Regions from separate parts of the Homo sapiens genome. Here regions 1, 2, 3, 4, 5 and 7 are each reported to be linked to region 6. Evidence: microRNA targets listed by miRTarBase, many of them from high-throughput screens and not tested one by one. Region 6 holds a microRNA gene; each other region holds the end of a gene's coding sequence.
What was found. The annotated mature microRNA hsa-miR-509-5p reads UACUGCAGACAGUGGCAAUCA and lies in region 6 at 1,631-1,651, opposite strand. An mRNA with a match to its seed (bases 2 to 7 or 8) in the 3' UTR can be bound and repressed. Matches are read on the target gene's strand: a 7mer-m8 pairs with bases 2 to 8, a 7mer-A1 pairs with bases 2 to 7 and ends in A, and an 8mer does both.

Region 1 (4,066 bases), not on the chromosome of region 6:
ACTCCTGACCTCAAGTGATCCACCTGCCTCGGCCTTACAAAGCGCTGGGATTATAGGCGTGAGCCACCGTGCCCGGCCTCTCTTGGTACATTTGTTGCTTGACAAACCAATAGTGATGTATTATTATTACTAACTGAAGTCAACGTAAGTTATAGTTCACTGTGCGGTGCATTCTGTGGGTTTTGACAAATGCATGCCATGTCCCACCATTACGTGTCACACAGAATATGTTCACCGCCCCGACCGCCCTGAGTCTTCTCTGTTCTCCTTCCGTGTTCATTCCTCCCCTCTTCCGGGTTCGTGTCTTTTAAGCTCATTGGGGCTGCCGTGAGGAAGCTGGGTTGTAGGGCAGAATAATGAAGGCAGGAGGGAGCTGGCTGGCCCCGAGCGTGCAGGGGAAGGAAGGGGAGGGCACGGGCCCTTCGCGCCTCTGACCCCCCTTGCCTCCACTCGCCCAGGGCTGCGCTGCTATGCCAAATTCCACCGGAACCGCAGGGTTACACGGAGGAAAGGGCGCTGTGTGGAGCCCGAGACGGCCAACGGCGACCAGGGATCCTTCATCAACGTCTAGCGGCCCCGCGGGACTGGGGACTGAGCCCAGGAGGTTTGCACAAGCCGGGCGATTTGTTTGTAACTAGCAGTGGGAGATCAAGTTGGGGAACAGATGGCTGAGGCTGCAGACTCAGGCCCAGGACACTCAACCCCAGGAGGGGAGCCGCTCGGCGAATGAGCTGGGTGGGTGCCCAGGAGCCGGCCCGCAGCACCTGCACACACGAAGTCCGGACCCACGCAGCCTCCATCCCGCGTGTCTTGCTCTCCGCGATGGCAATGCCGAGAGTGCCCTCTACTGTCCGACTCCAGCACTGCAACAGCTTCAAGTTCAAAACCAAGAGGCGTTTTTGAGAGTGGAAAAGAAATTTAAACTTCCCGAAAGAAGGTCCACCATCAGGAGATGAATATGGAACATCTCCTATGTACCAGGCACTGTGCTAAGTGCTGGAATACATTATCTCATTGAATTATCACAACGACCTTTTCAAGTAGGCATTATCACCATGCGACAGGTTGAGGACCGTGAGGCACGCTGGAGTTATTTGACTCGACTTGCCCAGGGTCCCAGGTCAGTGCTCCTCAAACCTGAACATGCTAAGAGTCACCTGGAGGTCCAGTTAAAAATGTACATCTGGCCGGGCGCGGCGGCTCACGCTTGTAATCCCAGCACTTTGGGAGGCCAAGGCGGGTGGCTCACCTGAGGTCAGGAGTTCGAGACCAGCCTGGCCAACATGGGGAAACCCCGTCTCTATTAAAAATACAAAAATTAGGCCAGGCGCGGTGGTGCACACCTGTAATCCCAGCTACTCGGAGGCTGAGGCACCAGAATCGCTTGAACTTGGGAGGCAGAGGTTGCAGTGAGCAGAGATCGTGCCACTGCACTCCAGCCTGGGGGACAAGAGTGAAACTCCATCTCAAAAAAAAAAAAAAAAAAAAGCACATCTGACTCAGTGGGCTCTGTGCTCTAACAAGCTCCCAGGGAACGCGAGGCTGCTGGCCCAGGGACCCACTGAGAGGTCCTGGGAAGTACATGGCAGAGCAAGGACATGAACCTGGGCCAAGGCTGTCCAGCTCCAAGGCCCACGTTCTTGCTGCTCCACAGCCAAGAATTTCTTCCAGATTCTCTAAGGCTTTTGGCAAGAGAGGCTCACACCCTGGTATTCCCTTCCTCTGTGGCTGGAATAACTTGACTGTTCTCTGCCTTCCCTGGATAAAGGTGTATCATGTTTAAAAACAAAACAAAATACAACTTAAGCACATACTTGCTTGCAGGAATAAGTTGGGCAGGTTGATCCCTGTGGTCTAGTAGCTGATATCCTGGGATAAGAAGTGTTTGGGGAAAAGAATCATGTTGGCCTTTATGTCCCTGTGGTCCTGATCATCCAGTCCTGGACAGGCACTTTACAGTTTTCTGGAGCACTTCCCCCCCAGGGGTTCTGATGCAAGCATGGAATCCAAAAAAACCCCACACATATTGCCCATGTTTACCCACTTTGCATACTGTTTAGTGATTTCCAGGACCACAAAACCATCCCTGGAACCCCACCCCACATTTTTGCAGCAGAGCCCACTGGGAAGTTGAGGCTCACCTGAAATTGAGGTGCTATCTGAAGCTAACTGCCCCTAACAGGCCAGACTCACAATGCCCACCCAGGACATCTGTCCCAGCAGATCTGGCTTCAGGGGTCACTTCAGGAGAACCATTTAAATCCCCCCACTTGGCATCTCACTCCTGGCCAACCCTCTGTTCCAGGGCGAACCAGGTTGCAAATGACAAAAGACTTTCCTGGCCAAATTCCTCACTGGCCTGGATCACGCCCATAAGATGCCAGAGATGTTTACTGCGTTGGAAAAATCAGTCGGGGTCAGGGGTCAGGCACCAAGGAAAGCAGGCAGATCTAGAAGAAATTAAATATGCTTGTTCTCTCCCTATCCAAGTTTGATGGGCATGGGAACCTTGTGGGGAGGGAGCAGGGAGGGCAGGGGAACTGGGAGATCAAAGCAGGCTAGCTGAAAGGCAGATATGGCTAGACACAATGGCTCATGCCTGTAATCCCAGCACTTTGGGAGGCTGAGGTGGGCGGACCACCTCAGGTCAGGAGTTTGAGACCAGCCTGGCCAACATGGCAAAACCCGGTCTCTACCAAATATACAAAAATTAAGGCTGGGCACGAGGGCTCATGTCTGACATCCCAGCACTCTGGGAGGCCGAGGTAGGCAGATCACTTGAAGTAAGGCGTTCGAGAACAGCCTGACCAACATGGTGAAACCCCATCTCTACTAAAAATACAAAAATTAGCCAGGCATGGTGGCAGGTGCCTGTAATCCCAGCTACTCAGGAGGCTCAGGCGGGAGAATCACTTGAACCCAGGAGGCGGAGGTTGCGGTGAGCCAAGATCACGCCATTGCACTCCAGCCTGGGCGACAGAGTGAGACTCCAAAAATATAAAACACTTAAAAATGTAAAAAGGCAGATCTGCCAGCAGCTTCGTACTTGAGACCAGACAACCCACACATGCTGTGTGTGCCTCACATTAAGTGGTGACTCGGGACTGTGCTGGCTCTGTGGGGCTAGAACCCTAAGGAGTACCGCCGGAAGAAAGCCCAGCATTACTATGGCTGGGGGACAGCTGTTAGATGGTCCTAGGACATCAGCCATGGAGAACACAGAGGGTCAGGACAAAGCTAAAATGCCCATAGAACTGCCACTGGTTGCCAGGGTAGTTCCATGGTTGGAAATTCAAGGCCCGTCTCTTTGCCCTAGCTATCTCTATTTGACATTTCCAAAGAGGGATGGGTGGATGGAACCTCTTAACTCCAGAGCTGGGAATCCCAAAGCCCTCTCAAGTGTCTAACCAACCTCTCTGCCAGGAAGTTCTTCCTTAGGTCTATCTTAAATTTATTTTGCTCATACAGAAGCCAGTTTCCTCTAATCCAGGGTTTAGCAAACTTTTACTGTGAGGAGCCAAATAAACATTTTAGGATTTGCAAGCCATCTGATCTCCACCAGCTACTCAGCTCTGCCGTAGCTCGAAGCAGCCACAGAGAGTGTGTAAATGAATTCATGGCTATGCTCCAGGAAAACTATTTCTGGACACACATGTGAATTCTGTATACTTTTCACATGTCACAAAATATTATTCTCTCTTTCCTTTTTTTTTTTTTTGGAGATGGAGTTTTGCTCTGCTGCCCAGGCTGGAATGCAGTGGCTCAGTCTCAGCTCACTGCAACCTCTTCATCCCAGGTTCAAGCAATTCTCCTGCCTCAGCCTCCCAAGTAGCTGTGACTACAGGCATGTGCCACCACACCTGGTTAATTTTTGTATTTTTAGTAGAGATAAGGTTTTACCATGTTGGCCAGGCTGGTCTCAAACTTCTGACCTCAGGTGATCCGCCCGCCTCAGCCTCCCAAAATGCTGGGATTACAGGTGTGAGCCACCGCACCTGGCCATAAAATATTATTAGTTTAATTTTCTAAAACCATTTAAAAGTGCAAAAACTGCTCTTTGCTTGCC
Region 2 (4,066 bases), not on the chromosome of region 6:
ACTAGTGAACAAAAAAGATAAAAAGGAAAATTAAGAATCAACTATGCCTTTATCAAATTTGAAGCATAAGTTATATTATTAAAATTATTTTTGTATAATCAAGGTGATAAGACATTCTGGAAAACATTTAATGTATTTAGTACTTAGAATATTTACAGTGGATGTTACTTTTTTGAAACGATATATTTTTCCCAATTTTTCTATCATGTCAAGGAAGGAAACTGTTAAGAAGTTACCAGTGTCCAAAATGTCTTCATTGTTTCTTACTCATACTTACACCTCACATGACCTGCCCAGCCCTCTTTGGTTCAGTTCATTCCCAGAAGCCAAGCCTTAGTCTTCACAGATGAGCGACACACACCTCTGAATATAATGTCTCTTTTTTGTTTTTTCCTTTTCAGCCAAGGAAACAAGGATAAATGGCTCATACCCCGAAGGCAGTTCCTAGACACATGGGAAATTTCCCTCACCAAAGAGCAATTAAGAAAACAAAAACAGAAACACATAGTATTTGCACTTTGTACTTTAAATGTAAATTCACTTTGTAGAAATGAGCTATTTAAACAGACTGTTTTAATCTGTGAAAATGGAGAGCTGGCTTCAGAAAATTAATCACATACAATGTATGTGTCCTCTTTTGACCTTGGAAATCTGTATGTGGTGGAGAAGTATTTGAATGCATTTAGGCTTAATTTCTTCGCCTTCCACATGTTAACAGTAGAGCTCTATGCACTCCGGCTGCAATCGTATGGCTTTCTCTAACCCCTGCAGTCACTTCCAGATGCCTGTGCTTACAGCATTGTGGAATCATGTTGGAAGCTCCACATGTCCATGGAAGTTTGTGATGTACGGCCGACCCTACAGGCAGTTAACATGCATGGGCTGGTTTGTTTCTTGGGATTTTCTGTTAGTTTGTCTTGTTTTGCTTTCCAGAGATCTTGCTCATACAATGAATCACGCAACCACTAAAGCTATCCAGTTAAGTGCAGGTAGTTCCCCTGGAGGAAATAATATTTTCAAACTGTCGTTGGTGTGATACTTTGGCTCAAAGGATCTTTGCTTTTCCATTTTAAGCTTCTGTTTTGAGTTTTGCCCTGGGGCTTGAATGAGTCCCAGAGAGTCGTTCGGATGGTGGGAGGCTGCCTAGGAGGCAGTAAATCCAGTCACAGTGCCTGGGAGGGGCCCATCCTTCCAAAATGTAAATCCAGTCGCGGTGTGACCGAGCTGGCTAACAGGCTTGTCTGCCTGGTTTTCCTCCTACACGTGGACATTATTCTCCTGATCCTCCTACCTGGTCCACCCCAGGGCTACCGGAAGGTAAAATCTTCACCTGAACCAATTATGAGCAGTCTCCTTACTGAAGGTACAGCCGGATACGTGGTGCCCCCGGGGCTGGTGTTGGCAGCCGGGGGGAGGTGCCTGAGGGTCCCCACGGTTCCTTTCTGCTTTTCTGAATGCATCAAGGGTACGAGAACTTGCCAATGGGAAATTCATCCGAGTGGCACTGGCAGAGAAGGATAGGAGTGGAATGCCCACACAGTGACCAACAGAACTGGTCTGCGTGCATAACCAGCTGCCACCCTCAGGCCTGGGCCCCAGAGCTCAGGGCACCCAGTGTCTTAAGGAACCATTTGGAGGACAGTCTGAGAGCAGGAACTTCAAGCTGTGATTCTATCTCGGCTCAGACTTTTGGTTGGAAAAAGATCTTCATGGCCCCAAATCCCCTGAGACATGCCTTGTAGAATGATTTTGTGATGTTGTGATGCTTGTGGAGCATCGCGTAAGGCTTCTTGCTTATTTAAACTGTGCAAGGTAAAAATCAAGCCTTTGGAGCCACAGAACCAGCTCAAGTACATGCCAATGTTGTTTAAGAAACAGTTATGATCCTAAACTTTTTGGATAATCTTTTATATTTCTGACCTTTGAATTTAATCATTGTTCTTAGATTAAAATAAAATATGCTATTGAAACTATATTAGTCTTTTTTTTTTCCAGCTAATTGCAGACTTTGATCATTGCTTAATTGTACAAGTGTCCACTGTAAGGGAGGGAAAGGTGAGGGCTCTGGGCAGAAAGAATTGGAACCCTGGCTGTGTCCCTGAGTGGTGTGTGACTTTAGACATGACCCCTCAGTTCCTCCTCTGGGATGCGGGGATGCTGGTGGTATGAATGAACCTCCTCCTTCCACACATGGGAAGAGAATTATGTGAGTTGTTAATGTATGTAAAGTGCTTGGAACCTGCACCCCAGGTGTGCCACGTACATGTGTTTGCCCTGACCATGTGGAAGGTCATCTGCCCGTGAGTCTTAAGTCCACACTGCCCAGTGCTGCTGACATCACCCAATGCTATGGGAAACTTCAGAAGAAACAAAAAGAGTGCCTTATTTTGATTAAAGCTGGTGGCCGGGCACGGTGGCTCACGCCTATACTCCCAGCACTTTGGGAGGCTGAGGCAGGTGGATCATTTGAGGTCAGGAGTTTGAGACCAGCCTGGCCAATCTGGTGAAACCCCATCTCTACTGAAAATACAAAAATTAGCTGGACATGGTGGCGGGTGCCTGCAATCCCAGCTACTTGTGAGGCTGAGGCAGGAGAATCACTTGAACCTGAGAGGGGGAGATTGCAGTGACCCGAGATCACACCACTGCACTCCAGCCTGGGCAATAGAACAAGACTCAGTCTCAAAAAAAAAAATAAAAATAAATTTTAAAAAAAGCTGGTGCTTTTCTCCAAGTTATACAACTAGAAGCCTGAGCCCACTCCTCGCATTCCCCTCCCCCACACCCTGCATCCCCCACACACCTAGCATTCCCCTCCCCCACACCTGCTGTCACCCTCCCCCACACCATCATCCCCCTCCCCCACACCCCACATCCCCACCAACCTCGCATTCCCCTCCCCCACACCCTGCGTCCCCCTACTCCTCGCATTCCCCTCCCCCACACCCCGCGTCCCCCTCCCCCACACCTGCTGTCACCCTCCCCCACACCGTCATCCCCCTCCCCGACACCCCACATCCCCAACCTCGCATTCCCCTCCCCCACACCCTGCGTCCCCCCCACTCCTCACATTCCCCTCCCCTACACCCCGCGTCCCCCTCCCCCACACCCTACGTCCCCCTCCCCCACGCCCCACGGCCCCCCCCACACCCCAGGTCCCCCTCCCCAACACCCTGCATCCCCGTCCCCCACACCCCGCGTCCCCCTCCCCCACACCCCACGCCCCCCACAACATCCTGCGTCCCCCTCCCCCGCACTGGCATCCCTGCCTCGCTTAGGCCCTCGTGTTTTCCTTGGACTGTTGTGGTAGCATCTTAACGGGACACACTTCCTCCAGGATTCGTTACTGCCTCCTGGTCCTGGTAAGTTCCCCCAGCCCACCCCAACCCCACACACAATTTTCTTTCTATTCAGAAAAAAAGTGATCTTTGTAAAACTGTCTTAGCATTGGCCATGACGATTGTGCAGTAAAGACAGTGCTGTGAAGGGCATTAGCACAGGGCTGCTGTCAGGGAAAGCTCTAGCGGAGGTGGAGCTTCAACTGGGATTTGAAGTAGGTAGGAGAGAATGAAGTGTCCAAGAAGTCTGAAAGAGCTTGAAAAGATAGGAAGGGAAAGAGAGTGGGGAGGCATGGAGCCGGTGCAGGTGGTTCTTATTGCAAAATATTAAGATTGCAAATCCAAACCAGAAATCTTTCTCTTACCTAGGCCATGTGGCTGCTTCTAGTGAAAGATGCCTCCTTCCCCAAACCATCCCCCACTCTCCTCCTTATGTCTGAAAAGGCTTGCCTGCATTTTTGTCAAAAATATCTTGGTTGGACATTTATTTTAGAAGCATACTGACCAACTCATAAATCATGCCCATCATTGCCACACCAGAAATATTTTAAATGATCCAGGTGAATGTTTTCAGCTTTTTTTTTTTTGGAATCAATGTACAGAAATAACTGACATGATCATAAGCTGCCAATTGGACAATTGAGTCAAGCAAACAACAAAGCTACTCAAGAAAGACAATATGGGCTGGGTGTGGTGGCTCATGCCTGTAATCCCAGCACTTTGGGAGG
Region 3 (4,066 bases), not on the chromosome of region 6:
ATCAGCAAGTCCACAGTGGACAAAAATCCTTCAAATGTGAAGAATGTGGGAAGGGATTTTATACAAATTCACGACGATCTTCCCATCAGAGATCCCACAATGGAGAAAAGCCATATAACTGTGAGGAGTGTGGTAAGGACTATAAAAGGAGGTTGGATCTTGAGTTTCACCAGAGGGTCCACACGGGTGAGAGACCCTATAATTGTAAGGAATGTGGCAAGAGCTTTGGCTGGGCCTCCTGTCTTTTGAAACATCAGAGACTCCACAGTGGGGAAAAACCTTTCAAATGTGAAGAGTGTGGAAAGAGATTTACTCAGAGTTCACAACTTCATTCCCATCAGACATGCCATACTGGAGAAAAGCTATACAAATGTGAGCAGTGTGAGAAGGGGTACAACAGTAAATTTAATCTTGACATGCACCAGAGGGTCCACGGGGGAGAGCGACCCTATAATTGTAAGGAATGTGGAAAGAGCTTTGGCTGGGCTTCATGTCTTTTGAAACATCAGAGACTCCACAGTGGAGAAAAGCCATTGAAATCTGGAGTGTGGGAAGAGATCTACTCAGAATTCACAGCTTCATTTACATCAGTAAGTCTATGTGGGAGAAAAGCCATATAAATGTGAGAAGTGTGGGAAGGGCTTTGGCTGGGCCTCAACTCATCTGACCCATCAATTCTCCACAGCAGAGAAAAACCATTCAAATATGAGAACTGTGGGAAGAGCTTTGTACATAGATCATATCTTTTTTTTTTTTTTTTGAGACAGAGTCTCACTCTTTCACCCAGGCCTGACTGCAGTGGCGCTATCTCAGCTCACTGCAAGCTCCGCCTCCCAGGTTCACGCCATTCTCCTGCCTCAGCCTCCCGAGTAGCTGGGACTACAGGTGCCCGCCACCACACCCAGCTAATTTTTTGTATTTTTAGTAGAGACGGGGTTTCACCGTGTTAGCCAGGATGGTCTCGATCTCCTGACCTCGTGATCCGCCCGCCTTGGCCTCCCAAAGTGCTGGGATTACAGGCGTGAGCCACTGCGCCCGGCCATAGATCACATCTTAAAGACCAAGAAAAGAGTCCACAGTGGAGATAATCCATACAAATGTGAGGAGCATGGGATGTACTACAACAGGCACTTGACTTGATATGCATCAGAGGGTCCATATGGCAGAGAAACCGTGGAAGTTTGGGGAGATTGCCATGTGCTTCAGTTATGCCTCAAAGTCTTCAACTTCATTGGACTGTTCACTTTCAAGGGAAACCTTAGTAAGGTGATATCTGTGATAGTCTTCTCAACTACAAGCTCATCTGAGAGTTCACAATGGGAGAAGCATTAAAAATTTGATACATGTGGTAAGCACTTCAGTTTGAGTTCATATCTCATAGCTTATTACAGAATCCATGCTGATGATACATTTCATACAGTCTCAGGAGGGAAAATATTTAAGTTAAAGTCAGAGTTTCAGCCATAGTTCAGCATACCCACGTGGTTTTAGAACCACTGTAGCACAGAACCTTTGTAATTTGGGGCTTCATTCAGAAGTTTGGCAATTATAGTTATTCAAGAGACAGGCCTTAGAAAGAATAGGAGTTTGTTCAGGCATTTACAAATCTCTAATGATGGACATGTCAAAATTGATGTCGGCTAGAATATAAGCTGCATTTACCTTTGCTGCAGAATCTTCACAACCTTAACACTGATTGGCACTTTGTATGTGTGTTTGGTACATGTAAGAGATGTAGAAAGAGCTTTGGCTGGGCTTCATATCTTTTGAAATATCAGAGATGTGATATTAAAGGATCAAAAGGAGAAAACATATTTCAAAATTGTATCTAAAAGAGGAAACCTGGGATAGACCAAGATGGCCAATTAGAAGCAGCTATGGTTCATGGTACTCATACAGAGGAATGAAAATGACAGATAAATTCAGCACCTTCAATTGAAATATCTAGGTTCTCTCATTGGGACTGACTAGGCAATCAATTCAACCCACAGAAAATGAAGAAAAGTAGGGTGGAGTTATGGCCCACTTGGTGTGGCATGGAGCCAAAGGAAACCTCACCCCCACCCAAGGGAAGCAGTGAGTGATTGTGCGACCCTGCGCAGGAAACCATGCTACTCAAGGATCTTTGCAACCCACGGGTCAGGAGATCTCCTTGTGAGCCCATGCCACCAGGGCCTTGGGTTTGATACACAGAGCTGTGTGGAGTTTTGGCAGAGCGGCCTCTCAGGCACACACAGAGACCCAGGAGGTTTACATGCTCTAGCCCCAGAATTCCTGGCAAGGTGGCAGATTCATCCTTATATTCCCCTAGGAAGGGGGCTGAATCCAGGGAGCCAGGCAGCAACATTCTGTGGGCCCCACTTCCATGGCACCTTACAAAACCCACTGGCTTGGAATTTCAACCAACCAACAGCAACAGGCTTCAGCCTGAAATAGGAGGGAGCTCCTGTGGGGGAAGGCTGGCCACCATTTCTGTGGTTCAGTCTACTCAGCATTCCAGCCTGCCAGCTCTGGAGAGACCAGGTTGTCTGGACAAGGAGAGGATCCCCCTGCCCAACACAGAACACCTGCTTTGCCAGATCATGCCCAGACTGCTGCTTTTTTTTTTTTTTTTTTTTTTTTTTTTTTTTGAGATGGAGTCTCACTCTGTTGCTCAGACTGGAGTGCAGTGGCATGCTCTTGGTTCATGGCAACCTCCACCTCTTGGGTTCAAGCAATTCTCCTGCCTCAGCCTCCCAAGTAGCTGGGATTACAGGCAGGTACCACCACACCTGGCTAATTTTTGTATTTTTCATAGAGACAGGGTTTCACCGTGTTGGCCAGGCTGGTCTTGAACTCCTGACCGCAGGTGATCCGCCTGCCTCAGCCTTCCAAAGTGCTGGGATTACAGGCATGAGCCACTGCACCTGGCCCAGACTGCTTCTTTAAGCAGGACCCTGATCCATTCCTCCCCACTGTGTGGGGTCTCCCTGTGGGGGGTCTTCAGTCACTCCAGCCAGGCTTATACTGACAGAAATCTAATCTCTACCTCAGATGGAGCTCCCAGGGGAGTGGCGACCACTGTCTCTATGGTTCGGTTGACAAAGCTGTTCCAGCCTGCTGGCTTTGGAGAGTCTGGGCAATCTGGGTGAGGAAGGGTCCTCCCCCACCGCAGCACACCTGCTGTACCAAAAGCAGTTGGACTGCTTCTGTAAGTAGGTCCCTGATCCTGTTCCTCCTGACTCAGTGAGACCTCCCAACAGGAGTCTCTAGACACCTCCTACAGGAGTCTTCAGGCCAGAAACTGGTCAGTATCCCCCTGGGACAGAGTTTCCAAAAGAAGGAGAAGGCTGCCATCTTTGCTGTTTTGCAGCTTTCACTGGTGACACCTCCAGGTACGGGAAAAACGGAGGCAACTAGGGTCTCGAGCAGACCCCAGCAAACTGTGGCAGCCCTACAGTTGCTAACAGTCAGTGGCTTGACTGTTAAAAACAGGCAGAAAACAACAAGAACATCAACAAAAAGACCCCACAAAAACCCCATTCAAGGGTCAGCAACCTCAAGATTGAAGGTAGGTAAGCCCACAGATATGATAAAAAGTCAACACAAAAAAATGCTGAAAACTCAAAAAGCCAGAGCGCCTCTTCTCCAAATGACTACAGCACCTCTCTAGCAAGGGTACAGAACTGGGCTGAGGCTGAGATGGCTGAACTGACAGAAGTAGGCCTCAGAAAGTGGGTAATGAACTTTGCTGAGCTAAAGGAGCATGGCATAACCCAATGCAAAGAAGCTAAGAATCATGATAAAACAATACAGGAGCTGATGACCAGAATAGCCAGTTTAGAGAGGAACATAACTGACTTGATGGAGCTGAAAAACACAACACAAGAACTTAACAATGCAATCACAAGTATCAATTGTAGAATAGACCAAGAGGAGGAAAGAGACTCAGAGCTTGAAGACTATCTTTCTGAAATAAGACAGGCAGAGAAGAATAGAGAAAGAATGAAGAGTAATGAACAAAACCTCTGAAAAAAAATATGGAGTTATGTAAAAAGACTGAACCTATGACTGATTGCGGAACCTG
Region 4 (4,066 bases), not on the chromosome of region 6:
TGCCCTAGTCTGTTTCCCTATCCATGAGGTGGGCGATGGTCCTGCTGTCCCAGAATTCCGGACACCAGGCACAGTAGAACTCCACTCAGCAAGGCCTCAGATGTGGGGATCTGTGTCCCTGGGCCCTGAGGGGACACAACAGTGGCCAGTCAGCTGACTGAGCCCAGAGGCGGTGGCTGGATGCTGAGACTGAGCAGGCAACTGACCTAGGGTGAGCCCCGGGGACACCCACCAAAGCAGTCGTGACTCTGTCCACCTGGCCATCAGAGGGCACAGTGCCTCCTCCCCCAGGACGACGGACCCATGCACAGCCACCACCCCAGGACCTCCGGACACACTCCCATACCCTGTACCTGTCCCTTCTTCACCAGCATCCACCAAGGGCTTCCTGGGCCCGACACCTGGACACTGTGCAGACACCTCCGGGGGTGGGGGCGGCTGGGGCAGAAATTCTGCAGCTGTTGGCCTTGGGGGAAGGACGCGGGCCGAAGCAGTTGCTGCCCTCTAACTTCTCCGAGTGGCAGGCTCACAGGAGCAGAGTGGGCTCCAGTGGCTCCGCCAGGACAAGGCACTGGTTCACTTCCAATCCCAGCCACCCATTCCCTGACCCGGGCCAGTCCTGTCGTCAGCCCGTCCTCCAAAAACAAGACCAAGAGAGGGCCCTGCTGGCTCAAACCTTCCTCTGAGCCAGCCTATGACAGCCCAGGGTGTTCAGCTTCTGCATGGAGAGAGAAGCCCCAGAGGCTTGCGGGTGCTGCCCATTCAACCACCTTGAAGCTTGCCCGTTGCCTGCGTGCACGTGCGCACACACACACACACACACACAAATGCACACAGGCACGCACATCCATATGCGCACTGGATACACTCATTCCTAGTCCAGTCACTGAGCCCTACTCCCTATCCAGGCCAATGTGCCTTCCACGACCCAGAGGTAGCTGCTGAGCCAGGGACCGCAGTGGCATCATCACATGGTGCCCTCCCAAGGCCCAGGCACCCTGTCCTGTGGCCCCCGCCCTGCTCCAGGGCTCAGGCAGATGGTCAGGACCATCAGCTGGACGGCATCCCTACAGCTTCATCTGCAGCCCCACTGGGAAGCTTGTCTGGCAACACTCAGCTCACACACCTGTGGCGACCCCACGAGCCACCTCCCCCAAGGACCCCAGAGAAAGCACAGAGGCTTCTGGCCAACCAGTCTGGCTACAGACCCCAGATTTGCTGAGCAAGTTTGCTTCCCCTCCCCAGCCCTACTGCCCCATCACTAAATGCCGGTTTCATAGCTGTTTCCAACTGCCCACTCCTTCCCTGGCCCTCAGAGCCTTCTGGACCCTCCCAGGAAGGTGGTCACAGCATGGACGTGGCCACACCCCGCCTCACTCAACTTTATGTCCCGGAGGGTCCCACTTCTCCCCACCCCTTTTGAAGGGCCTGCAGAACAGCCCCCATGCTCTCTCTGCCTCCTGTCCACCCACCAGTCCATTGACCTCTGCCCCCAATGGCTACCAGCACCCTGCCCGAGGCTCTGGGAGCCTGGAGGGCCAGACCCAGAGTCTGAGGCATGACCGCCAGGGTAATCCCTGAAGGAGGGAAACCGGGAACCTGGCGCTGGCATCTGTAGATGGGGCTGCAAGCCTCGAGAGCTGGGAACCAGGAGGGCCGGAGCAGGAAGGGCTGGCTCCCCAGGGGGCTTTGGACAGCACCTTCTTGGCCTCAGTCCTATGCCCCATGGGATGAGGACAAGCCCTGCCCTGCCAGCCTGATCCCTAAGTTCACGGGAGCCCAACAAACCTGGATAGCCCCCCATGCCAGACACCCATCTTGGGAATGTGCCCCAGCTTCCCTGGTCCCACCTCCGCCCCTGCATGGATGGTGGTGGTGGTAGCTCAGAAACAAGGCCCTCCCCAGCACGCTTGCAATGAAAACCCTTTAATGTTGGGCTTTCTTTAAATAAAACAGAAAGGTTGCAGCTTTCCCATGGTGGCTGTAAGGCAAGAACAGCAGTGAGGGCGGGCGTGTTCTATCGGGCAGTGCTGCAGCCCTTGACTCTGGCTCAAGGTGGGCTTCCTGGAGGCAGCGGCAAGGAGGCAGTTCTGGATGTGCAGGCACAGATGTAGGGGAACAGGCAAGCGGGCACAGGGCCCTGAGCTGACAAGCAGTGACCCCTGCACCCAGCTAGATGGGGCACCCCCTCTCTGGGAGCTGAGGGCATCAGCTGGAGCCTCAGGCTGGGACCAGCCCCAACTTTGCCTTGGTGACTCTGGGCCATTCCAGGCCTCAGTTTCCCCAGCTGTAAGGTGAGGCATTAGGCAGGAGGGGGTGGCCCCAGCCAGTGTCCTAGTAGCCTGGTGTCTCCATTAGGGAGACCTGAGAAGCTGCCAGGAGAGGCTCTGCTAGCGCAAGGCAGGGCCGGCCCAGCAGCTGACAAGGAACATGCTGAATATAGAGGACAGAGGAGTTAAGAAGACGCCTGCCGGCCAGGCCAGAGAGGGGCAGCTCTAAGGGGGTACAGCGGCCTGTGGTGCTGTAGGCCCAGAAAGGGTGGGGATCAGCCCAAGTCACAGAGCATGGCCCTGGTGGGCGGCGAGGGGTGCGAGTGGACAAGGACACCCCTGCAGAGTCCCACCCCCACTCTATTCCCTCCAACAAGGGAACGCCCAGCAGGAAGCCTGCTGTCTTTCCAGGAGCCCCTGTGCCACCTAGTCTGACCCCTCTCAGCCACAAGGCTACCCTCCCGTCCAGCCTGACTGGAGGTAGAGGAGGAGGAGGAGGCAAGGCCGACTGCAGTGGGGAGCCCGGGTGCCCCGTCCTCTGTCAGCAAATGCCTCCCTTCCATCTGCCTCTAGCCCCGGCCTCTGACCACCCAGGCTCTGCCCCAGGCCTGCAACCACCTCAGCGGAAGCCAGAGGGGCTGCCTGGCAGATGCCGCTCTGACCCTTCAGGAGTGCCCACTGCACCTGAATCAGGCCCAGGCCCTGGAGAGCCCAGGCCTGTACCCAGGATGCTCTGGTCTGGCCCTGCCTCGGCCCTTGCAGTGGTCCGAGCCAGGATCTAGGCTCGGGAGGCACTTGTGGGTCCCTCTGCTCCAGGCACCATCCTCCCCTACCTAGGCCCACATGAGTGGCCTCATCGTAGGGCCAGGCAGGACTCTCCTTTGCCCATCCATCCCCACCTTGAGGGCAGAGCTGGGTCAGGATGCCAATGCCACTCCTCCTTCTGCCTAGCGTGGAGCCCAGCACAGAGGGGTATCAATAACTGGGGGGGCCCAGTGGGTGGAGCAGGGTGGGCCAGGCTGGTCAGGAGGCTACTCCAGCTGGAACAGAGTATGGCTGAGACTGCCCATCTGTGGGCAGCCCCCAGGCCCAGGATGGTGGCCAGGGCAGACGGTGTGAAGGTGGCGGTCACTGGTCCTTGGTGACATCACTGAGCCCACTCTCCATGCGGAGCAGCTGGCTGCTGGCCTCGTTGTAGGAGATCCAGTGCTGCAGATCAGCGGGCAGCTCAGGGGGCTCCACCTGCAGAGGACAGAAAGGGGACACCCAGCTAAGCTACGGCCTTCCCACCTCTGGGCCGCTGCCCACACTGCTCCCCAGCCCGTGACCTTCCAAGATCCCCTGCCCCGCCGCCTGCCATGCTTTGCCCATGCCTCCCCAGGCTCTGCACACTTGTGCTACCCCTGCATACCCACCTTGACACAGCCCCGCTTGTGCCTGGCCCGTCTCCCCTAGGGGCCATCCCCAGAACCCAGCCAGAAACCCGTGAAGTTGGCAGGTTGGGAAGGGCAGAGAGGAAATCCAGAGGCCTCAGGGTGACAGGGGACAGAGGGGTGGAGGGCCAGCATGGGAGCCCTCCTCCAGGAAAGTACCAGACAGGGCTCACTGAGTTCTCTTCTTTCTCCAGGGCACCCAGAGGATGGCACTTCATCCCCCAGGGCAGCCTGGGCCTGACCACTCCACTATCAACCCTCTCCACACACACAGCCACCATGTGGCAATGGGAGCCAGGCTCCAGGCCACTCCTGAGGGGTCCACAGCCTTGCAGATGGGCATTGGGAGCTCCCAGGATGAGG
Region 5 (4,066 bases), not on the chromosome of region 6:
TAGAGACAGGGAGCTGAAGAGAAGGAATCCAGGCAAGTACGACAACCCATCTGAGACTAGTGGGCAGTTGTCCTAGGATAAGCTACCTAGAAATCAAAGCAGTGCTTCTCTTTTCCCTGGGATTCTAGTGATCAGAAATCTATACTTTGGAAATTTGATCTACGTGGTGGTGGTGCTCAATCATCTAGAGTCATTTGCTTCCTTTGTCAATCTTTGCTTGCCTGGGGCACATCAAACTTGAGGATAGTGAAAGCATGGGGGAGAATATCACAGATTTAACATTCTACTTACTTTGTCAGCTGGGACTCCAAATCCATTTCCATCAGGTCCCAGCCTCACTTTTGAGGCAGCCTGTACTCTCTCCTCCAGGGCCTGGATAGACCAAGTCTCATCACAGAGGTGGCTTCTCATCCACTCACCTGGCCTGACATGCAGCCCATTCTTAACAATGCTCTCTCCATGACCACCTCTTTTTGGAAAGTGTGCAAGTCTTGTTGCCTGGCCAGTGAGCTAACATTTTTTTCTGACACAGGGAGATTTTAGGTTTCTGATCTGCACATCTCCATATCACATCCCATGCTAAGGCGCTTACATTAGGGTCAGGCCTGGCCCTAACCCTTATACCAACATGGCTATTTTCAGTTCCAAAAAGAAAGTGTTCTATCAAGTAGCAGCCTCCATCATCTCTGATTCATACTATTGTTCTACTTTCTCTTATTTGGCCTGTAAATGCACTACAGTATCTCTTCAGGCACTGGGCCACCACCCCGCTTTCACCTCCTTTCTATTATAGGTTTTATAGACCATTTGTCCCTATGTCTTTTTAACTCATTCCTTGAGGCCTGATTCTACTTCTGGAAAAATTGGATCCATGGTCCCTACTCTAACAGAAAACCAGTCCTGACAACATGGTTTTATTAGCATCAGCTAGAAGTGGCCACGGTGGATGTTTGATCTTACTCTCCACTTACTGCAAAAAAAAAAAAGCATTGCTTAGAACCAACATGCCCAAATCAGAATCATCTTCTTTGGCAGATGTCATCTAACATTTAATTGGATTACATCTAATAGCTCTATATGGTATGACAATTCACCAGTTACCTGGAAATACATTTTCCAACAAGTTTACATTGATGTACCCACCAGTAGGCTAAATTGCTTAAATCTAAACATCCTACGAATGCTTTGTTAAGATTTTTTAATGTTCTCTGAATGCAAATACCAGCTGTTAAGATTTTCCTGGCTCAAATTATTAAGGCCAGAGGCTGTCTACCAGACTACGTATAGTAAGATGCAAGCAACTGAATTCTGAAGAAAATATTAGCTCAACCTACATCCCTGGGGAGTTGGGATGGCCTTCTATAATTAAGACGTATCTGGATTATTTAACTAGAAAAGAGTGTCAATCCTCTCTTCTGCTTAGCTGAATGTGAGGATGGATGGATCTGCCCTAATTGGACAACAGAGAGTATTTGCACTCTCATTTTTGTCTGAGAATGTATCCTTAGCTTCTATGCTTACAAATGGTTATCAAAAGTCAATTAGAGAAGTCAATATTCATAAATAATGGCTTCAAAGACTTGTTGTTCACCCTTCTAACATTCTAAACCTAATTCTTAGCAAATGAGAAGCTTCAACTGCTGCCAACCAAGACAAATTCTACCAAGTTGTATTTTTATGTATTTTATGAATCTACATTTATGGATATAATACAAAATGGCTTAATAAGAATAATACCAGAAAACTGTTATAAGAGCTTACTATGTGCCAGGCACTGTAGTAAGTGCTTTGCTTGCATGATTTTCTTTGATTCTTATAGCAACCCTTTGAGCTAATTACTATTATTTCTCCTGCTTTGTAGGTAAGAAAACTGAGGCGTAAAGAGGTTATATCACCTAAGGTCACATAGCTAGTAAGTTGTAAAGCCAGGATTTGGACCTAGGCAGTCTGATTCCAGAACCTCTGTGCTTAACTAGTTTACCATATGCCTTCCCTAGGTAACCATTTGATATGCAGGAAGCCCCATAATTCATTCCTGGCTATGGTCTTTATGGAGTAACTTCTACTGGTCACTTAGTACTGAAAGACAGTGTTGAAGGACACTTCTGGAGGAAGCCAGCTGCTGTCATCTTTGAGGGGTCTGTTTCTACAAAGAACTTGAACCCGCTGGGGCAAGTGCATTCCAGTCACTGAACCTGGCAGCAGATCCATGGATCTCAATGATCTTTAGTTTTTGCTCCTCAAATTGGAATAATGATAGAATGAGAGTACTAAAACCCCCACAACTGGCCCTACATGAATGGCCAGCTATCTCAAAAGAGGGACTGTGCTTGTCAGAGGGAATCCCTTCAGGGGACTCTTGGACAGGTTAAAGTGCCATGGATATGTTGTGTAATGGGAAGTGTAAACTTACAGGGACTTGATTTCAAAGGTCATTAGAGAAGTTAGTCACAACTTCTAAAGCAACTATCAGAAAACAGCTTGGACTCACTCAAGTAAACAGGGGCTTTATTGGCTTATAGACCTGGGCAGTCCAGGTGTAGATCTGGTTCCAGACAAGGCTGATTCAGAGACTCCACGTGGTCAAGGCTCTGTTGTTTGTCAATCCCTTGGCTCCTCCACTTCCAGTTTGGCTTCTGTCCTCACAGTCTCTCTCCATGTGGCAAACAAGATGGCTACTGGTGGTCCCAGGTTCACGTCCTCTCAGCTTGGAAATCCAGCAGCAAGAAGATGTCTCACTCCCAAAGTCCATAACTCAATCCTTGGGAAGACTGTAGTTGGTCCTGCTAGGAACACGTAACTATCCAACTATCCTCCAGATAGGGAGCTGGGGAGATGGGAGATGGGCTCCTCTGACAGGACACCCTGTGGTTCACGTCCACTCTTGTGGCCTGGGTATATTGGGAATGCGGGGATGAAGAAAGAATTCACAGCCCCACAAGGTTCGTGTGGAAAAGGGGAGGAGTTTCCCAGAAGAGCCATAAAATTAAGAAAGCACTGCAAGCAAACAAAAACCAGTCATTTAAGTTCTTGGCAGTAACAACATATTTATACCTAGTGCTTCATTTTGCTCTGGAAAAAAAGCAGATCTGCTCTGCTGGGGCAATTCTAATGGCCTTTCCAGTGTGCTTTGAGAAAGTGGAGGGACTGCGTGGTATTGCTGGGCTTCCCATTTCAGGAGACCTGGGCCCAGCAGTTCTATGACATGATGATGAGCACTCTGGACCCAAACCAGACACCTGGCCAGTGTCCTGATTCTGAGACTGAAGAGCCCTGTGAATGTGGGCAATGCCCTCCTGCTTTCTGGGGGTCATGGGTGGGGAATTAAATAGAAGATCAGCGCTTCCTTCTCAGCTCTTGCCTTATGAGTTTTTTATAACATCATTTCTCCTTTCTGGGTGTTAGTTTTCTCATCTATGTGAGGTAAGAAATTATCTCCAAGATCTGTCCAACTTGAAATAAAAATGAAAACAAAACACCTCAAATTCTGATTCTTTTGGACCGTTTCCCAGCATAGTTAACGAGCTCCCAGACCAGACACTTTACCTCCATTCTCAGGCGCTGAGGAGGGTGGAGCAGGCCTGCAATGCATATAGGGGAACAAAGGCCCAGAGACAGAGACGTGGGAACCATGCAGTGTAAAAAAGCGGGAGGTACCAGAGACAGAGACGTGGGGCCCATGCGGTGTAAAAAACCGGGAGGTACCTTCAGGACCCACAGCTGGGCCTCAGGGCCACAGCTGGGGTTTGGTGAACACTTCGCCTTGCACTTCATACTTCAGTGCCCGCCAGTTCAGGACATTAGGACTGAAGGGCCCGCCAAGATAGATGGTGTTAATCTCATCTGGTGACAGCACAAAGTCCCACATGTTCACATTTCCAATGTCTCCCACCAGGGACTGGCTTCCTTCAAAGTTCCCACCGAAGGAATCCTGCTCCTGCCCCAAGATGATGCTTGCTTCTGCCCCCACAGTGTATCCCTTCTTCAGACTCTTCCTCACCCTGGGCTTCCCATCTACCCAGAACTCCACGATCCCTGAGGCGGACTCCCAGCTTGTACAAATGTG
Region 6 (4,066 bases):
TGCAGAATTCAATCCACTATCTTTCCTTATATTTCCCGCTTTGAGTCCTGTCCACTCCCACGTTGCATCTTTCACATGACAGTTTTCAGAACTGAGAAATATTAAACATTTCTGTTAGGTTCTGTTACTCACAGAAGAAATATCCTTGCATGTCTTATCCTGTTCCTTATAATAGATTAAAATGTATTTACAAAAGAACGAATATGTACTTTATTAGCACATGAAGAAAGAGGACTTTGTATATCTGAGATAGAAAATATTTTGATTTTCAGAAAAGTTAAGTGTTTAAGAAGCAGGAGAGAATTTTGGAAGGCTTAAGAAGACTTGAAAATGAGAAAGGAAGCTAACCATTAATAGATTTGGATGTTGGAGCAGGAAACAGTTTCTGCAAAATGAATAATACTCTTAAGGCGTAAAGAAACTGTATAATGGCACAATAAACCTTGATTCAATCAGGCAGCATCATAGAAATGGAAATCAATCTCAGAAAAACTCAATGGGAGGCTTGTTGCAAGGACCTTAAATTCCTAGACCATGTGTCTGATTAGGCACCTAAGAGAGTTTTTTGAGGTAGTCCAGCATGGAAGTGGAGGGTTTGTGAGGGTAAAATACCTGCACTATAGGGAAAGCATCCCTCTGCATGCAACTAAATGCCTCCAACACACACACAGTGTCATCATGTATGTTGCACGTGTCATGCAGTACTCTACCCACAGACGTACCAATCATTTTTAATTATACATGATTGCCACGTCTGCAGTAGGGTACCACACACAGCATGTCTGAGGATGGCAGCCTTGCCTTAATACCCACCCATTCACCTTTGAAACAACCATTCAATATTTACAACCTGTGAGTGACCATTGGAATTTGGACAAAGGACTTCTGTAGAATCCAATCCACTATCTTTCCTTATGTTTCCTGCTTTGAGTGCTGTCCACTCCCATGTTGCAGCTTTCACATGACAGTTTTCAGAACTGAGAAATATTAAACATTTCTGCTAGGTCCTGTTACTCACAGAAGAAATATCCTTGCATGTCTTATCCTGTTCCTTATAATAGATTAAAATATATTTACAAAAGAACGAATATGTACTTTATTAGCACATGAAGAAAGAGGACTTTGTATATCTGAGACAGAAAATATTTTGATTTTCAGAAAGTTAAGTGTTTAAGAAGCAGGAGGGAATTTTGGAAGGCTTAAGAAGACTTGAAAATTAGAAAGGAAGCTAACCGTTAATAGATTTGGATGTTGGAGAAGGAAATAGTTTCTGCAAAATGAATAATACTCTTAAGGCAGAAAGAAACTGTAAAATGGCAAGATAAACCTTGGTTCAATCAGGCAACATCATAGAAATGGAAGTCAATCTCAGAAGAACTCAATGGGAGGCTTGTTGCAAGGACCTTAAATTCCTAGATCACGTGTCTGGTGGTCAGGCACCTGAGAGAGTTTTCTGAGGTAGTCCAGCATGGAAGTGGAGGGTTTGTGAGGGTAAAATACCTGCACTGTAAGGAAAGCATCCCTCTGCATGCAACTAAATGCCTCCAACACACACACAGTGTCATCATGTATGTTGCATGTGTCATGCAGTACTCTACCCACAGACGTACCAATCATTTTTAATTATACATGATTGCCACTGTCTGCAGTAGGGTACCACACACAGCATGTCTGAGGATGGCAGCCTTGCCTTAATACCCACCCATTCACCTTTAAAACAGCCATTCAATATTTACAAGTTGTGGGTGGCCATTGGAATTTGGACAAAGGACTTCTGCAGAATCCAATCCACTATCTTTCCTTATGTTTCCTGCTTTGAGTGCTGTCCACTCCCATGTTGCAGCTTTCACGTGACAGTTTTCAGAACTGAGAAATATTAAACATTTCTGTTAGGTTCTGTTACTCACAGAAGAAATATCCTTGCATGTCTTATCCTGTTCCTTTTCACATTGCTACTTGCAAAGCATTAACTACCAGTTTGCATTCTCCATATCCATTAATTAAGTAGTAAATAATCCTCCATCTCATCAATCTCATATGATAAGGTTTGGCTCTGTGTCCCCACCTAAATTTCATCTTGTAGCTCCCATGATTCCCATATGCTGTGGGAGGGACCCAGTGGAAGATGATTGAATCATGGGGGCAGGTCTTTCCTCTGCTGTTCTCATAATAGTGACTAAGTCTCATGAGATCTGATGGTTTTAAATATGGGAGTTTTCCTGCACAAGCTCTCTATCTTTGCCTGTCGCCATCCATGTAAGATGTGACATGCTCCTCCTTGCCTTCTAACATGATTGTGAGGCTTCCCCAGCCACATGGAACTATGAATTCTCCATTAAACCTCTTTCCTTTGTAAATTGCCCAGTCTTGGGTACGTCTTTATCAGCAATGTGAAAATGGGCTAATACAGTAAATTGGTACCAGTAGAGTGGGACACTGCTGAAAAGATACCTGAAAATATGGAAGCGACTTTCGAACTGGGTAACAGGCACGGGATGAAACACTTTGGAGAGCTCAGAAGAAGACAGGAAAATGTAGGAAAGTTTGGAACTCCCTAGAGACTTGACTTGTTGAATGGCTTTGCCCAAAATGCTGATAATGATATGGACAATGAAATCCAGGTTAAGGTAGTCTCAGATGGAGATGAGGAACTTGTTAGAAACTGCAGCAAAGGTGACTCTTTATGTTTTAGCAAAGAGACTGGCAGCATCTTGCCCCTGCCCTAGAGATCTGTGGAACTTTGAACTTGAGAGAGATGATTTAGGGTACCTGGCAGAAGAAATTTCTAAGCAGCAAAGCATTCAAGAGGTAACTTGCATGCAGTTAAAGGCATTCCATTTTATAAGGGAGGCAGAGCATAAAAGATTGGAAAATGTGCAGCCTGACAATGCTATAGAAAAGAAAAACCCACTTTCTGAGGAAAATCCAAGCCAGCTGTAGAAATTTGCATAAGTAATGAAGAGCCAAATGTTAGTCCCCAAGACAATGGGGAAAGTATCTCCATGGCATGTTAGAGGTCTTCGTGGCAGCCCCTCCCATCACAGGCCTGGAGGCCTAGGGGGATAATGTTGCTTTGAGGGCCAGGCCCAGGGTTCCTGTGCCGTGTGTAGTCTAGGGACTTGGTGCCCTGTGTCCCATCCACTCCAACTGTGGCTAAAAGGGGTCAAGGTATAGCTCAGGCTGTGGCTTTGGAGGGTACAAGCCCCAAGCCTTGGCAGCTTCCATAAGCTGTTGAGCCTGTGGGTTCACAGAAGTCAAGAACTGAGGTTTCGGAACCTCCACCTAGATTTCAGAGGATGAATAGAAATGCCTGGATCTCCAGGCAGAAGTTTGCTGGAGAGGCAAGGATCTCACGGAGAACCTCTGCTAGGACAGTGCAGAAGGAAAAGCTGAGATCACAGCCCCAACACAGAGTCCCTACTGAGGCACTGCCTAGTAGAGCTGTGAGAAGGCCACCATACGCCAGACCCCAGAATGGTAGATCCACTGACAGCTTGCACTGTGTGCCTACAAAAGCCACAGACACTCAACACTGGCCCATGAAGACAGCCAAGAAGGAGGCTGTACCCTGCAAAGCCACAGGGGAAGAGTTGCCCAAGACCTTGGGAACCTACCTTTTGCATCAGCATGACCTGGATGTGAGAAATGGAGTCAAAGGAGATCACTTTGGAGCTTTAAGATTTGACTGCCCCACCAGATTTTGGACTTGCATGGGACCTGTAGCCCGTTTGTTTTGGCCAATTTCTTCCATTTGGATTGGCTGTATCTTCCCAATGCCTGTACCCCCAACTATATCTAGGAAGTAACTAACCTGCTTTTGATTTTACAGGCTCTTAGGTTGAAGGGACTTGCCTTGTCTCAGACAAGACCTTGGATTGTGGACTTTTTAGTTAATGCTGAAATGAGTTAAGACTTTGGGGGACTGTTGGGAAGGAATGATTGTGTTTTGAAATATGAGAACATGAGATTTTGGAGGGGCCTGAGTGGAATGATATGGTTTGGCTCTGTGTCCCCACCCAGATCTCATCTTGTAGCTCCCCTGATTCCCATGTGTTGTGGGAGGGAC
Region 7 (4,066 bases), not on the chromosome of region 6:
CAACAGGGCAAATATTGTATGATTCCATTCATACCAAGTAATTAGAACAGTCAAATTTGTACAGACAGGAAGTAGAACAGTGGTTACCAGGAGCCTGAGGAGGAGAAAATGGGGAGTTACTGTTTAAGGAGTACAGAGTTTCAGTTTGGGATGATGAAAAAGTTCTGGAGATGGATAGTGGTGATGACTGCACAAAATGTGCATCTATCTAAATGCTATTGAGCTGTATAACCAAAAAGTGTTTAAATGGTTCATTTTAAGCTATATGTATCTTACTACATTAAAAAATAATTCTAAAATAAATAAAATGACTTTATTGACCAAAACCTTGCCTTGTCCTGTGACATGAAAAAAATTTATACACGCTCATTAAGAGGAAACATTATTTAAAGCAAGGACTTCATTTTAAAGTAAAATGTGTCACAGTGCTCTTCATAAAAGCAATCCTATAATGAATCAAAAGACGTTTAAAGCCTTTTGATAATCTGACTTAATCCAAAAGTGAATTTAAATATTTGGGTGATGGGCCAGACTGAATGTCCTGCAGGCAATTATACAGACTTAACTACTGAAATCAAGACTTTGATAAATATTATCCAACAGAGTTTGGGCTGCTCTCTGTAGCTAGTACATGGTATTTAGAAAGTTCATATTGGATAAAGGACTTATATCCAGAATAAAAAGGACTACAACACAGTATCAGCAAACTCCAATTTTAAATGGACAAAAAATCTGAATAAACATTTCACTAAGATACATGAATGGCTGAAGAGCACATAAAAGATGCTTTGACATTATTCGCCATCAGGAAAATCAAAGTTAAAACCACAAAGGAATATCATTTCAAACGCTAGGATGGGCATAATTTTTAAAAAACAGACAACAATGACTGGCAAGACTGTAGAGAAATGGGAAGCCCCACACATTACTAGTCAGAATGTAAAATAATGCGGTCACTTTGGAAAACAATTTGGCAGTTTCCTAAAAAAGTTAAATGAAAATTTACCGTATGACCTAGCAACTCCCCTCAGGCATCTGCCTAAGAAAAATGAAAACATGTCCACACAAAGACTTGTACACTAACGTTCAAAACACTTGCATACCAATGTTCAAAGCAGCATTATTCCTAACAGGCAAAAACTGGAAAAACCTCAAATGTTCTTCAACTAGTGAATGCACGAAGCATCCACATAATGTAATATTATTTATGATAAAAAGGAATAAAGTACTAGTATGTTACAACATGGATGAACTTAAAACACATTAATGAAAAAAACACAGAAAGATCACATATAACATAAAATGTACAGAAAAAGACAACTCTAGAGACACAAAGTCGACTGAGTAGTGGGTGCCTGGGATTAGAGGTTGGACGGGAGATTAACTGTAAACTGGAATAACGGATCTTGCTGGGATGATGTTCTAAAAAATGGATTATGGTAATGGTTGCACAACTCAGCATATTTACTAAAACTCACTGAATTGTACACTTGAAATGGTTTTAATGATATGTAATTTGTACCTCAATAAATTCCTTTAAAAAAAAAGTTTATACTCCAGATTCCCAATGGATACTGGGATAAAACATTGTTATGAATGTTAGGGAGTCTAAGAGTAATCATCTTGGAACAAGCCTCTTCTGAAGACTTTTACGTTATTTCTTCAACTTTCTATAAATTATATTTTTCAGAAAACAAAACTTACAACAAGTTTTCTGTCTTTTCAGAAAAAAACTTAAAACCATTATGAATGATTCTCATAATAAACATTCCTTTCATGGCTAGGATGTGATTCGTTGGTCTGCTTAGCAATAACTATGCGGACCAATTTATCACACGGCAATATTTAAACTGCAGGCTTGGGGTTGGGGAGGCACCAAAAACCTTCTCCCAGAGGTAGCATTTCACACCTACATACATTAGTCACAGTAAATGTTCCTGAGTCTAAGATTAGCATTAAGGATCGCTTTACTTCCATAAGTGAAGAGTTTTCTGGTTTAGCTCTCTTTTTATAGGAGGTGCCCACAATTTCAACTTTAGGAACTTATTTCTAGACCACTGTTGAGTCCATGGGGTTCCTCCAGAACCCTATGACCTGAAGCCAAAACCTCACTCATTCAGGGCCTTAAGTTCCTTTTTCAGTTGGAAATTATTATTCAGACTCCACCAATGAAATTTATAAGGAATAATCCACCAATACCCGTATATTCCATTCCTCTGAGGTCTAATTTCACAAAAGAAAACTTAACTGAAAATTTTTTCTGTATCAATTCTACATTCATTCCCTGAACTTTACTTGCTATCAGTGCAGTCTCTTTAGATTTTAGGGTATCTATTCTCCAAATGGTAGGGGTTATAATAGAACATTCATACAGTGGGAAAGTCAGGTGACATACATGAGAGAACTAGCTAAGTCAGAAAGTTGATTCCCCATCAAAAGGTGGCAGCTGCTACCCAGGACCAGCTGAGTGCTTTACATAAATAAAAGCCCAGTGTTGTTAGCCCTTATAATTTTTTTTAAGACAAGCTTTGTTTTTAGTATGAAATGCCCTAATTTTAGATAGTGGCAACAATGTATACACACACACACACACACACACACATGCACACACACCCAAGCAAATTGTTATAACAGCTTTTAACTGTTGCCACACAGAATGTTTACACTCCAATTGCAAAAAAATGTACTTGCTACAGGCAAAATTGTTTTAAAGTAGAATTTTTGCAAACCAAAATCCATCCAGAATAGCTCTGTCTTCAGCACATTTCCTTACCCCCAGCCCCCATCTATTTTCCTAGGACTGTTACTCTCACGGCTGAGATGGCTCAGGTGCAAGCTCTCTGGCTTCTCAGTCCTGTTGGCCAATGCCCAAAAGAAAAAGAGTTCCCTTGTCCGATTAAAATACTCCCTCAAGGAAAAGTCGTTTGAACTTCACTGACCCATTCCTAGTTACAGCATTTGAGGGATTCCTGCACGAAGTTTTCAAAAAGTATACTGCATTCTCACTAAGCTAGAAGTCCAGCATCCTAGGAACCAGGCTTGATGGAGTGTACCCGTAATGTCAGCTACTCAGGAAAGTGAGATGGAAGGATCACTTGAGCCCAGGAGTTCAAGACCAGTCTGGGCAACATAGTGAGACTCCATCCCAAAAAAGAAAAATTGAAAAAAAAAAAAGAAAAAAAAAAGAAAAGAAGTCCAGCATCCTGAATAGTGGTATTGTATTTTTTACTAGAGAAACTTGAAAGTAATGACAAATAAAAAAAAATAACTTATGTCCACAGCTTCAGAGATTATCAGGATACCAATAAAAAACTAAAAAACCAAAAAAGGCAAAAATCATTAATCCCATCCCTTCATTCTGCTGGTGACGAAAATAAAATTCTGAAAGGTCAAATGACTTGTCCAAGGTGTATACAGCAAGTTGGTTGGCAAACTGGGACAGAATCCAAGTTATGTGACTGCAGTCAAGTTCTCTCCATCACACTACATGGTAGTAGAAGAAATCAGAGAGAAATCCCCTGAAGAAAAGAGCTTTTCCAATTCGTCTGGCCTCAGAATCATTTTGCATTCTTCCCTTTCCAGTGACTTTACCAACTAATTACTGTTTACCAGTCGTTGCCATCCTTGAAAAGAAGAGGGATGAATGGGCAAAAGGATATTTTTCCTAACTGCCAATTTACGAAAGCTGCAGCTACTGATCAATACTGTAAGTTTACATCCCAGGGTTTCAGTAACTGACAATTTGAATTAAATTCCCCCCACTTTAATGTAGTTCCAGGATTACTCTGCAGAGTGAAATCCCCGATGTCTAATGAGGCCTGAATTACTTTTAAATGTCTTCTCACATTCGTTACATTCATATTCTCTCCTTCCGGTATGAATTTTTAGGTGTTCTACAAGGATTGAGCTTCGACTAAAGGTTGCACCACAATAGTTACACTCATAGGGTTTCTCTCCTGTATGAATTCGGTGGTGCTCATTAAGAGATGAACTCTGACTGAAGGACTTCCCACATTCTTTACATTTATAAGGTTTTACACCAGTATGAATTCTCTGATGACGACTT

Region 1: the mRNA of DRAXIN is a reported target of hsa-miR-509-5p. The part of its 3' UTR that is shown has no 7-base or 8-base seed match.
Region 2: the mRNA of SMOC2 is a reported target of hsa-miR-509-5p. Seed matches in the 3' UTR shown: 7mer-m8 at 766-772.
Region 3: miRTarBase lists ZNF221 as a target of hsa-miR-509-5p. Seed matches in the 3' UTR shown: 7mer-m8 at 794-800.
Region 4: miRTarBase lists THEM6 as a target of hsa-miR-509-5p. Seed matches in the 3' UTR shown: 7mer-m8 at 2,778-2,784.
Region 5: miRTarBase lists CRP as a target of hsa-miR-509-5p. The part of its 3' UTR that is shown has no 7-base or 8-base seed match.
Region 7: the mRNA of ZNF483 is a reported target of hsa-miR-509-5p. Seed matches in the 3' UTR shown: 7mer-m8 at 3,458-3,464, 7mer-A1 at 2,993-2,999 and 7mer-m8 at 1,850-1,856.

The regions. Positions count from the first base shown.
Region 1 is chr1:11,719,126-11,723,191 of GRCh38, forward strand. DRAXIN (dorsal inhibitory axon guidance protein) reads left to right here. Exons shown (of 7, transcript NM_198545.4): 7 at 459-4,066. The coding sequence ends at 571. Among named protein-coding and RNA genes, the nearest start is that of AGTRAP, 15 kb to the right of the region's middle. RefSeq lists an enhancer at 619-688.
Region 2 is chr6:168,666,020-168,670,085 of GRCh38, forward strand. It overlaps SMOC2 (SPARC related modular calcium binding 2), which reads left to right. Exons shown (of 13, transcript NM_001166412.2): 13 at 402-1,973. The coding sequence ends at 419. Among named protein-coding and RNA genes, the nearest start is that of SMOC2, 230 kb to the left of the region's middle. RefSeq lists enhancers at 882-1,383, 1,384-1,883.
Region 3 is chr19:43,966,737-43,970,802 of GRCh38, forward strand. ZNF221 (zinc finger protein 221) reads left to right here. Exons shown (of 5, transcript NM_001297588.2): 5 at 1-973. The coding sequence ends at 620. Among named protein-coding and RNA genes, the nearest start is that of ZNF155, 15 kb to the right of the region's middle.
Region 4 is chr8:142,734,772-142,738,837 of GRCh38, reverse strand. It overlaps THEM6 (thioesterase superfamily member 6), which reads right to left. Exons shown (of 2, transcript NM_016647.3): 2 at 1,911-3,512. The coding sequence ends at 3,399. Among named protein-coding and RNA genes, the nearest start is that of SLURP1, 5.6 kb to the left of the region's middle. RefSeq lists an enhancer at 1-449.
Region 5 is chr1:159,709,798-159,713,863 of GRCh38, forward strand. It overlaps CRP (C-reactive protein), which reads right to left. Exons shown (of 2, transcript NM_000567.3): 2 at 2,492-4,066. The coding sequence ends at 3,728. Among named protein-coding and RNA genes, the nearest start is that of CRP, 2.8 kb to the right of the region's middle.
Region 6 is chrX:147,258,956-147,263,021 of GRCh38, forward strand. MIR509-1 (microRNA 509-1) reads right to left here and starts at 1,670; the gene lies at 1,577-1,670. MIR509-3 (microRNA 509-3) reads right to left here and starts at 771; the gene lies at 697-771. The region is part of intron 2 of LOC105373347 (periphilin-1); the gene reads left to right.
Region 7 is chr9:111,542,885-111,546,950 of GRCh38, reverse strand. ZNF483 (zinc finger protein 483) reads right to left here. Exons shown (of 6, transcript NM_133464.5): 6 at 1-4,066. The coding sequence ends at 3,781. Among named protein-coding and RNA genes, the nearest start is that of ZNF483, 20 kb to the right of the region's middle. RefSeq lists enhancers at 1,520-1,689, 1,753-1,922.